2 linked regions of the Homo sapiens genome follow. The protein of the gene in region 1 purifies or fractionates together with the protein of each later gene. This does not show direct contact. Each region holds a gene or a part of one and is shown on either strand. Other genes may lie near its edges.

Region 1 (5,498 bases):
TGTAGGATTCCTTGGAAATAACACATTAGTACTGATAAAAGATACTGTATATGCTGTAGTTCTGATGATTGTGAAACAAGTGCTATTATATAATGTGTGTTACTAGCATTTCCTGATTTTGCATTCTAAATTAAATTTAAAAGTAGAGAAATGGACATTGTATAAAATATCCACAACCAATTTAATATGCGGCCATGCTTGGCCGGGCACCGTGGCTCACGCCTGTAATCCCAGCACTTTGGGAGGCCCAGGCGGGTGGATCACGAGGTCAGGAGTTCAAGACCAGCCTGGCCAACATGGTGAAACCCCGTCTCTACTAAACATACAAAAAATTAGCCGGGTGCGGTGGCAGGCGCCTGTAATCCCAGCTACTCAGGAGGCTGAGGCAGGAGAATCGCTTGAACTCGGAGGGCGGAGGTTACAGTGAGTGGAGATCGCGCCACTACACTCCAGCCTGGGTGACAGAGTGAGAGTCTGTCTCAAAAAAAAAAAAAAAAGTGTCCATGCTTTTAATATTATAGTATTGTAATATTTAACTTCTCAAGAACTTAATTTATAGAGATTTAATACAACATTAGTTGTATGGTGTGTTTTAAGAGCACTAGATAGATAGGTCAGGCCCATCCAAAGAATTAACTATATCTTTTTGTTGTTAATCTGGATTTACAACACTTGATTATCCAGGAATGGATTAACTGATGACCAGGTTCTGACCTCACTCACTGCCCAATTGCCTTCTAAACCACTGATAATGGAGCTTAAGCTTTGAGGCAGGAGATGATGGCAGTTGGAGAAAGAAGAAATTAAGTTGCTGTATATGTCTTGTGGGTATCTCAAATTGCTTTTAAAAGTCAAATATAAAAATTGTAGGGCTAAATATAATTTTTGTGTAATCAATTGTATTGGTGCTCTCCATTCTGATATAGATAATAGCAGAGTTAAGTGCTTGTTTATTTAAATAACTTTCCAAATATATTTTACCTGGCTAGTTTATGTTTGTATTTTTAATAATAGATTTTTAGAATATAATTCACATATCATGAAGTTCACTATTTTGAAGTATCCAGTGCATTGGGTTCTAGTATATTCACGGAGTTGTGCAGTCATCACCACTAATTTCTGAACATTTTCATCACCCAAAAAGAAATCCCCTACCCATTAGCAGTCACTTCCCAGTGTTCCCCCACTCCGACAGCCTCTGACAACCTTAGACTAATGTACTTTTTATTTCTATGAATTTACCTACTCTGGAAAATTCATATAAATGGAATTGTAATACAATATGTGGCCTTTTGTGACTGGCTTCTTTGACTTGGCATAATGTTTTCAAGGTTTGTTTACATTGTGTCATGTATCACTACTTCATCCCTTTTTATTGTCTAATAATAGTCCATTGTATGGATATACCATATTTTTTTCATCCCTTCATCAGTTGATGGACATTTGGGTTGCTTCTCCTTTTTGACCGTTATGAGTAATGTTGATAAAAACATCTGGATACAACTTTTGGTTTAGATACATGTATTCATTTTTCTTAGGTGTGTGGTAGAATTCCTCGGTCATATGCTAACTATATTTAACCTTTTGAGAAACTGCCAGACTGTTTTCCAAAGTGGCTGTATGATTTTACATTCCCACCAGCAGTATATGAGCGTTTCATTTTCTCTAAATCCTCACCAACACTTAATATTATTGTTTTGATTATAGCTGTCCTAGTGGATGTGAAGTGGTATCTTATTGTGGTTTTGATTTGCATTTCCCTGATGACTAATGATGTTCGTCATCTTTTTATGTGTTTACTGGCCATTTGATAATCTTCTTTGGAAAAACACCTTTTCAGATTCTTTACCCATTTGTGTGTCTTTGGAGTAATATTCACATCTTTTGCCTATTTTTACTTGGGTTATTTATCATTTTATTATTAAGTTGTAAGTGTTCTTAATATATTCTAGATACAAGTCACTTATTGTATGTATGATTTGCAAATATTTTCCTTTTTCTTGGGTTGTCTTTTCACTTTCTTGATGGTGTCCTTGGAAATACAAGTTTTAAATTTTGATAAAGTCCAGTTTATTTTTTTATTTTGTCACTTTTGCCTTTGGTGTCTGCGTTCCAACACTAATTCTGTAGCATCAGCTGGGTGTCCCCCACTTCCGTTTAGTTCTGGCACTAGCTGCCCAGGGTTGGCATCAGATCCCACAAATTAAAGGACAAGGTCCCCACTAAGAATGCCATTAATTTGGACACCAGCTGTAAATGGGGTCCCCAGGCTACTCACACTTCTGCCCTGCGGACTACAAATTCAAGACTTCCCATAATCCCCTCAAGGCTGATAGTTCACTAGAATGACTCACATAACTCACTGAAAGTGCTCTACTTGCAATTACAGTTTTATTATAAGGGATACAACTCAGGAACAGCCAAACAAGAAGTAGACACATATGGCAAGGTCTGGGGCAAGGGAAGGATGCAGAACTTCCATGCCATCCTTGTGAAATGTGGGATACAACTCAGGAACAGCCAAACAGGAAGTAGACACATATGGCAAGGTCTGGGGCAAGGGAAGGATGCAGAACTTCCATGCCCATCCTTGTGAAATGTGGGCACATCACCTTCCCAGCACATCAGTTTTTGTTCACCAAGGATGCTCCACTGAGTATCGATGAAGAAAGTTTTTATGAGGTTTCATCACATGGGCATGATTGATTAAATCATTAGCTACATGGCTGAACTTGATCTCAAGTCCTCCTCCTTTCATGGAAGGTTGGCCTGACCAGTTTATTCCTCTAAACATATAGTTGGTCTTTCTAGTGATTAGCCCCCATCCTGAAGCTACCTAGGGGCCCATGTTGCCTCATTAATGTAACAAAGACACTCCTATTTCTCAGGAAATACCACGGGTTTTTGAAACTTTCTGCTGGGTATTATGTCCAAAGACCAGGTACTCTCTCTTATAAGATGCCACAGTATCACATCACTTTGCCGAATTTTGAGTTTATGTGTGTATCACACTCAGTGACAAGAAGGAGAGTAACTTGGGACATGTTATTCTGTTTTCTGTCTTTTAAAATATGAATATGACCCTGGTAAATTTATATAATCAAGTAGGAAGGTGCCCTGGCTGCTAATAATGTTATCTGTTCCACTGTTTTATGTTGCACTCTGGAAAGTACAGTCACAGAAGCATAGGAAAACCTGAGCAGTTTCTGCTGCAGAAATACTGAAAGGGTATGTCCTCAGGGTTGTCATTTATATCATAACATGCAAAAGGAAGAGTCCATGAATAAGTAACTTTATTTCTTCTAATAGGGATTATAAGGATTATACTTAGAGATTACCTCTTAGACATCCTTCATAGATTTAAAAGTTCATTTTGCTGCTTGCTCTAGAGAAGTACCTGAATACCTAATATTAAATATGTTAGAAAAACAGAAATTTTGTTCTTAGATGACATTTTTACTCAGTATTCATTACTTTTCTTTAGAACTTTATTTTTTCTTGATTATATTTTTCACTACCTGCATATAGTACATTTATCATTCTGATTACAGAATTTATCTTAAAGACTTGTATTATATTTTGCATTATAAATATTGAGGCTTTTATTCTCAAAATGTGTTATGGGAAAGAGAAACCAATTGTGCATAATTATTTGGCAAATGGTTCAGAAAGTCAACTTTAATGATATTTGGCTTTAAGTATGTATTGCTAATTACATAAAAGCAATACAAAAGAGGAGACAAAAATGATAAGATTTGGTTTCTACTTTCAAGGGAACCAATAATGTAGCTACATGTGGTCACAATGAATAATACAAGGAAAAGAATTTGAGGGGAGAGGGAATTTTGAGGTTTGGTTTGGGACCTTTTAAATCCCACCACTTGGGCCTTGGTGCAGGAAAGCAAGTTTAGTAGAATTATCTGATATTAGATGTCATTTCAGTGTTACTCATCTAACAAATAAAACTAATAAGCAGAAGTAGACAGGTTGAAGTGCAACCAGAGCCTGTTTTTATGAAAGCTGAGGGAGAGACTAGCAAAGTCTATGTAATGTAAAGATCAGAAAAACATAACATTGTCTACTGGAATTGGCAATTAAGGTATCAGTCTTTGAGAAGCATGTTAGTCTTCTTAAAGTGTTTTGGATCGAAAGGTAGAGATAAAAGCCAAATTTGAAAAGAGGATAATAATAAATAGGAGAACAGGCATCCACTGCAACAGGAGTTTCAACCTATGCTGTATTCAGTAACTATGAATTTGTCCCTAATGACTAATATGATCATTACATCTCTGATGCCACCTGAGACCTAGGCTTCCACTAACATAAGCAAATTTATACTAGCGTCTTATTTGGAATATTGACACTAATATTCCGAACACAATTCAGATCACTGTCCCCCTCAGTCACATTCAAAATGTGAGGCTCTTCATTCTCCCATGCACTTATCCCTACACCACTATGTGTTCCCCTCTCTGAGACCCAGTCTTTCATTCCTCCCCTCTCTACCAAACTTCTCCACATACCATTTGGCATTCTACATCTCCTGTCAGGGGGGAATGTCTTCAGTTTCCTTATCCCTCATTCCTTCAAATCTATCTTTACCTATACTCTTTACCCTTAAAAGATAAAGGAAATATCTCTTGCTGTCAGTAGGCCAGTCTCAACCTGGATGCTCTAAGCTCATTCTCATTTCTTTAAGAAATTCCTTCAGTTATCCCCCTTCTCTACTGTATCTTCAGCTCTCCAAATTGAATCTTTCAATGTTAGCATCTTCCCATTGAAAAAGGTAAAAAGATTTTTTCTCTAAGTCCCATCCTCTTTTACTTTCCTTCATAGTTTATAAGTATGTGTCTACAAAAGAGTAGTCTAGCTGTGAAGTTTCTTCCTCACTGCATATTCTCCTGATCTCACTGTAATCAAGCTACTTCTTATACCACTCTACTGCAGTTGCTCTCACTAGTCACTCCTACTTGCTAAACCCAGTGGTCATTTTCTAGCCTTTTATTTACTTTTCCTCTGACCATTTGAAATTACCAACCATTCACTCCTTGAAGTTCTCTTCCTTGTAGTCCATGATACTATTCTCTGTCGGTTTTCTTCAACTCTGTGCACCTCCTTTTCCGTCTCTCTTTAAAAGGCCTTTCTCTCATTAGCTTTTAATGGTTAATATTCACCAAGATTCTATCCTTAGCCTTCCTTGTAATATATAAACATGTTCAAGTAAGCATGATCTTCAGAACAAAACTTCTTTTATCTTGTGTTCCTCTTTAAGTTATGACCGTATCTGTCAACATGTCTTTATGGCTCTACAGGATGCTTAGACAGTTTCTTTTCTAGAATATAAAGACAGATCGAGATTTCAGAAACCTCTTCCTGGAGCGCCTTCCCTAAACTTTATCAGTTTTTTAGTTTGCCTTCTCTGCTCAAATCCTTCTGGATTATTTAGACAGTATTATTTTATACTTCCTTGCTCACTCACTTTTCCACTACAGCACTTA
Region 2 (4,499 bases), on another chromosome or scaffold:
AACTCTTAGCCTCAAGTGATCCTCCCAATTCAGCCTCCCAAAGTGCCAGGATAACAGTTGTGAGCCACTGCACCCAGCCTGTATGTAAAATTTTTAAAACTCTGCTGTATATTTGAAAATCATCATCATAAAATGTTGAGGCAAATTAAAGTTCTCATAAACAAAGGAATGAGAAATGTAAAATATATATTTCCCTTGGCAGCTCACAATTCCAGAAACATTTTATGAAAAGATTAAGTCAATGGCATCCATCCAAACAATCCCATATCCCACATACACCACGTTGTAGCCCTTGTTTCACAATCTGTTATAAATAAAGAGCCTCTGGGATTCCAATCCCCCAATCAAATCCTTAAGTGCTACTAAAGGTGGCTGGTCATTTATTCAGCCACAGGATGGAAACCCAAGCACAAACATGTAACACGTTTTAATTACCATATGGAGAAAATTCAAGTTTCAGCACTCTGTAAATTATAGTGTTAGCAATATCGAAATACCCAAGAAATAAAAATCTCACTCAAGAGTTTTTATGCCTGTAACCCCAGCACTTTGGGAGGCCAAAGCAGGCAGATCGTTTGAGCCCAAGAGTTCGAGACTGGCCTAGGCAACATGGTAAAACTCCGTCTCTACAAAAAAATACAAAAATTAGCCAGGCATGGGTAGTGGCCTGTACCTGTAGTCCCAGCTACTCAGGAGGCTAAGGTGGGAGGATCACCTGAGCCTGGGAAGGTCCAGGCTGCAGTAAGCCATGAGCACCACTGCACTCTATGTACTCTGGATGATAAAGAGGAGAGACCCTGTCTCCAAAAAAAAAAAAAAAGGTGGGGGGCCAGGTACAGTGTGGCTCATGCCTGTAATTCCAGCACTTTGGGAGGTTGAGGCAGGCAGATCACTTGAGGTCAGGAGTTCAAGACAAGCCTGGCCAACATGGTGAAACCCCATTGCTATCAAAAATACAAAAATTAGCCAGGCGTGGTGGCAGGTGCCTGTAATCCCAGCTACCTGGGAGGCTGAGGCAGGAGAATCGCTTGAACCCAGGAGGCGGGGGTTGCAGTGAGCTGAGATCACGCCACTGCACTCCAGCCTGGCCAACAGAGTGAGAGTCTGTCTCCAAAAAAAAAAAAAAAAAGAAAAAGAAAAAGAAAAGAAGAATTTTTATATAAGAATCACAAACTTTCTACAAAAAATTCTCTATGAGAATCTTTGAGGGAAAAGAATTCAAATGCAGTTATGTACACATTAACATTGTCTTTCACAATCCTTTAATTAAACTCAAATCCACCAATATCCCAACATCTTATTAGATAATCAGCAAGAAATATCAAACTTAAGTAGAAAAATATTGAGAAAACAAAAATGTGAAATCATAAAAAGTAACACATTGGACAACATAGTGAGACCCCATCTTAAAAAAAAAAAAAAAACTAGCCTGGTGCATCTGCAGTCCCAGCCACTCAGGAAGCTGAGGCAGAGATCACTTGAGCCCATGAGTCTGAGGCTGCAGGGAGCTATGATTCCTGTCACTGCACTCCAGCCCCAGCCTGGGTGACAAAACAAGACCCTGTCTCTAAATAACAACCAAACAAACCTAAAACCCCAAAAAAACACTTGTGGAGGGATAACATCTCTTGTATTTATACAACTTTCTAAGATTTCCTATTTTTATTAGCCACCTAAATTTATGCATATTCCAATTCCAAAGAGCAAAGTAGTCTTACCAGGCCTTCAAAACACAAGACAGTACCTTTAAACCTCCCCAGAGCAATATCTAAAGAGAAAGATATTGTCATACAATACTCATTAAAAAATTTTTTTTAATTGCCAAATTTTAAATTTTTTTTTTTTTTTTTTTTTTTAGATGGACTCTTGCTCTGTCACCCAGACTGGAGTGCAGTGGCACAATCTCGCTTCACTGCAACCTCCACCTCCCAGGTTCAAGTGATTCTCTTGCCTCAGCCTCCCGGGTATGCTGGGATTACAGGCACGTGCTACCACACCTGGCTAATTTTTGTATTTTTAGTAGAGACGGGATTCACCATGTTGGCCAGGCTGGTCTTGAACTCCTGAGCTCAAATGATCCGCCCGCCTCAGCCTCCCAAAGTGCTGGGATTACAGGCGTGAGCCACCATGCCTGGCAGTTGCCAAATTTTATACCAAAGGTGTATTCCTCCTTACAAACTTTCAGAGGTAGTATGTATATTTTTACATTATTTATTAGAAACCATAAATAGGTAAATAAAAATTCCAAAAATGGTTAAAGTGGATGTTTCTAATTTGTTACTTTTCAAATTCCAGACTATACTTCATAAAAGAAGGGGATGTTATATACTTGTTATGTATCCTACTGTGCCTAGCAGGAGGGCAGTAAGCGATAGACAAGGATAGCCAGCAGAGACCTTTTCAAAATGGACTTACATTATATACATAAGTCCCTTTTAAACTCTATCAGGAAGAGGGAGAGAATGACAAGTCTTTTATCTATCTGACCCTAAAGTCCTACAATAATTACAATGATTAGTAAAATGTGTGAGTTCTATAACTGCTAACAAAAATAAAATGTGTGAGTTCTATAACTGCTAACAAAAATAAGATACAGACTAGTCTACAGACTAGTCTGCTTCACTGACACTATGATTAAATAATCATCAGAGAAATGAGTCAAGAATTTACCTTTGTACTGGCCACACCAATCTCAGGACCAGCATTAATATGAACTCCACAATCTGTCTCCCGTGATATGGAACTGCCAACTGTGTTTGTGATCCCCACAGTTAAAGCTCCTCTCTCCTTACAGTAACGAAGACCCATCAAAGTATCTGCTGTCTCACCTGTGTAAAAAGTAGGCCAACCATAACACACAGAACAGTTTTAACATATGCTGTTTCTTAGGAGCAAAAACAAATTGACCACACTTTCAACAATATTACTTGTTTTAAATAAAATACAAAACATCCACTTAATAAATTTATAAAACTTTAAGTAATATGGCTTGTCAGGATCTCTCTTCCTTCTCTGTCATTGAAAATCCAGCTCTTTGAACACAAAAGGTGTTCATTTTTACTAATTCATAAAGAATTATGTAACATTAAAATAAATCTGTATTCGTCAAGTCATCTGCAATGCCAGTTTATCTTTAAATATCAGCTTTTGCCAAGATATGCTAGAATTATTAGAAAGAATAACTTTCCTTCCTTTTAAGTCTTTAAAATTAACACACCTGATTGACTAAGGAAAAAGCAAACATCATCTCGAAAGACTGGTGTGTTTCTGTCCAGGAAGTCACTTGCTAGTTCCACCATCACAGGCAACTCAGTCAGCTCCTCAAGAACTTGACGTGTCTGCAGAGAAAATATGACTTGGTCACAGAACTTTCCTTCAAATACTCTTTCATCGGACTTCTTTGGATTCAATGTATAGTTTTTGCTTTTTCTGATTACAAAAATGACACGTTAGAAAATAAAAACAACCCAGATTAAAATATTTAAAAAAAAAAAATCAAAATCCTACCACTTGAGATAAGCATGGCTAACATTTTACTATCAGTCTCTTTAGACAACTATCTATGTATACATTCCTTTTTTTTTTTTTTTTGAGACGGAGTCTCGCTCTGTCGCCAGGCTGGAGTGCAGTGGTGCCATCTCGGCTCACCGTAACCTCCGCCTCCCGGGTTCAAGCAATTCTCCTGCCTCAGCCTCCTGAGTAGCTGGGACTATAGGCGTGCGCCACCATGCCCAGCTTAGTAGAGATGGGGTTTCACCATGTTGGCCAGGATGGTCTCAATCTCCTGACCTCATGATCTGCTCGCCTCAGCCTCCCAAAGTGCTGGGATTACAGGCATGAGCCACTGCGCCTGGACACATACATTCTTATAAGGAAACATACCCACACATATAAAACGTTTTGAGAAGTGGAAAGAGCATGGTTCTGAGTCAGCTTGTGTGTTATCTCTAACCTCCCAATTCCTAATCTTTAAAATGAAAATTCATGTAATACCCATGTTAGGGAGGGGTTTCAAATCAGGTAACAGATGTACAAATATATAGAGAAAAATTAAACACTTTAAAAGTACAACGTATTCATAAATATGACCATTTCCCAAAAGAAGTCAATATATTTTAGAAATCTTGTTTAACAGGGCTCACTATTTTCAACTTTTGTGGCATGGGGCAGGGGGAATGAAGTAGGGAGCAGTATGCCTCTGTGCAAAACGTAGTTTAACCTTCATTTCAGTAAATTTCCATTCTAATTATTTTTACACTAAACATCGGAAAATCAAAAACAGAAAAATTATCTTTTAGGCAGCAAAAACTTTAAGCTCAACCAATGTATACATTTAGTGTTGCTTTAATTCTAACTGTGGAGCTCACCTAACCTGACAGCCTTTCACCAGCCTCTTCAGGCAAGTGGCCCTCCCCATCTCTCACCCATCTCAGCTTTCCTCCTTCTCAGCAATAAAGAACTTAAAGGTGCCCTTATTTCATAGCCCTTAACTTTTGCTT

Evidence for each region.
Region 2: the proteins of RO60 (region 1) and GFPT1 fractionate together in Homo sapiens (co-fractionation; one large-scale study listed by BioGRID). This does not show direct contact.

What each region holds. Positions count from the first base shown.
Region 1 is NC_000001.11:193,061,503-193,067,000, forward strand, and holds part of RO60 (RNA-binding protein RO60), read left to right. Parts: exon of another isoform or gene 1-824; intron 825-5,498. UniProt on the Homo sapiens protein: RNA-binding protein that binds to misfolded non-coding RNAs, pre-5S rRNA, and several small cytoplasmic RNA molecules known as Y RNAs.
Region 2 is NC_000002.12:69,335,228-69,339,726, forward strand, and holds part of GFPT1 (glutamine--fructose-6-phosphate aminotransferase [isomerizing] 1), read right to left. Parts: intron 3,339-4,499; coding exon 3,218-3,338; intron 2,829-3,217; coding exon 2,671-2,828; intron 1-2,670.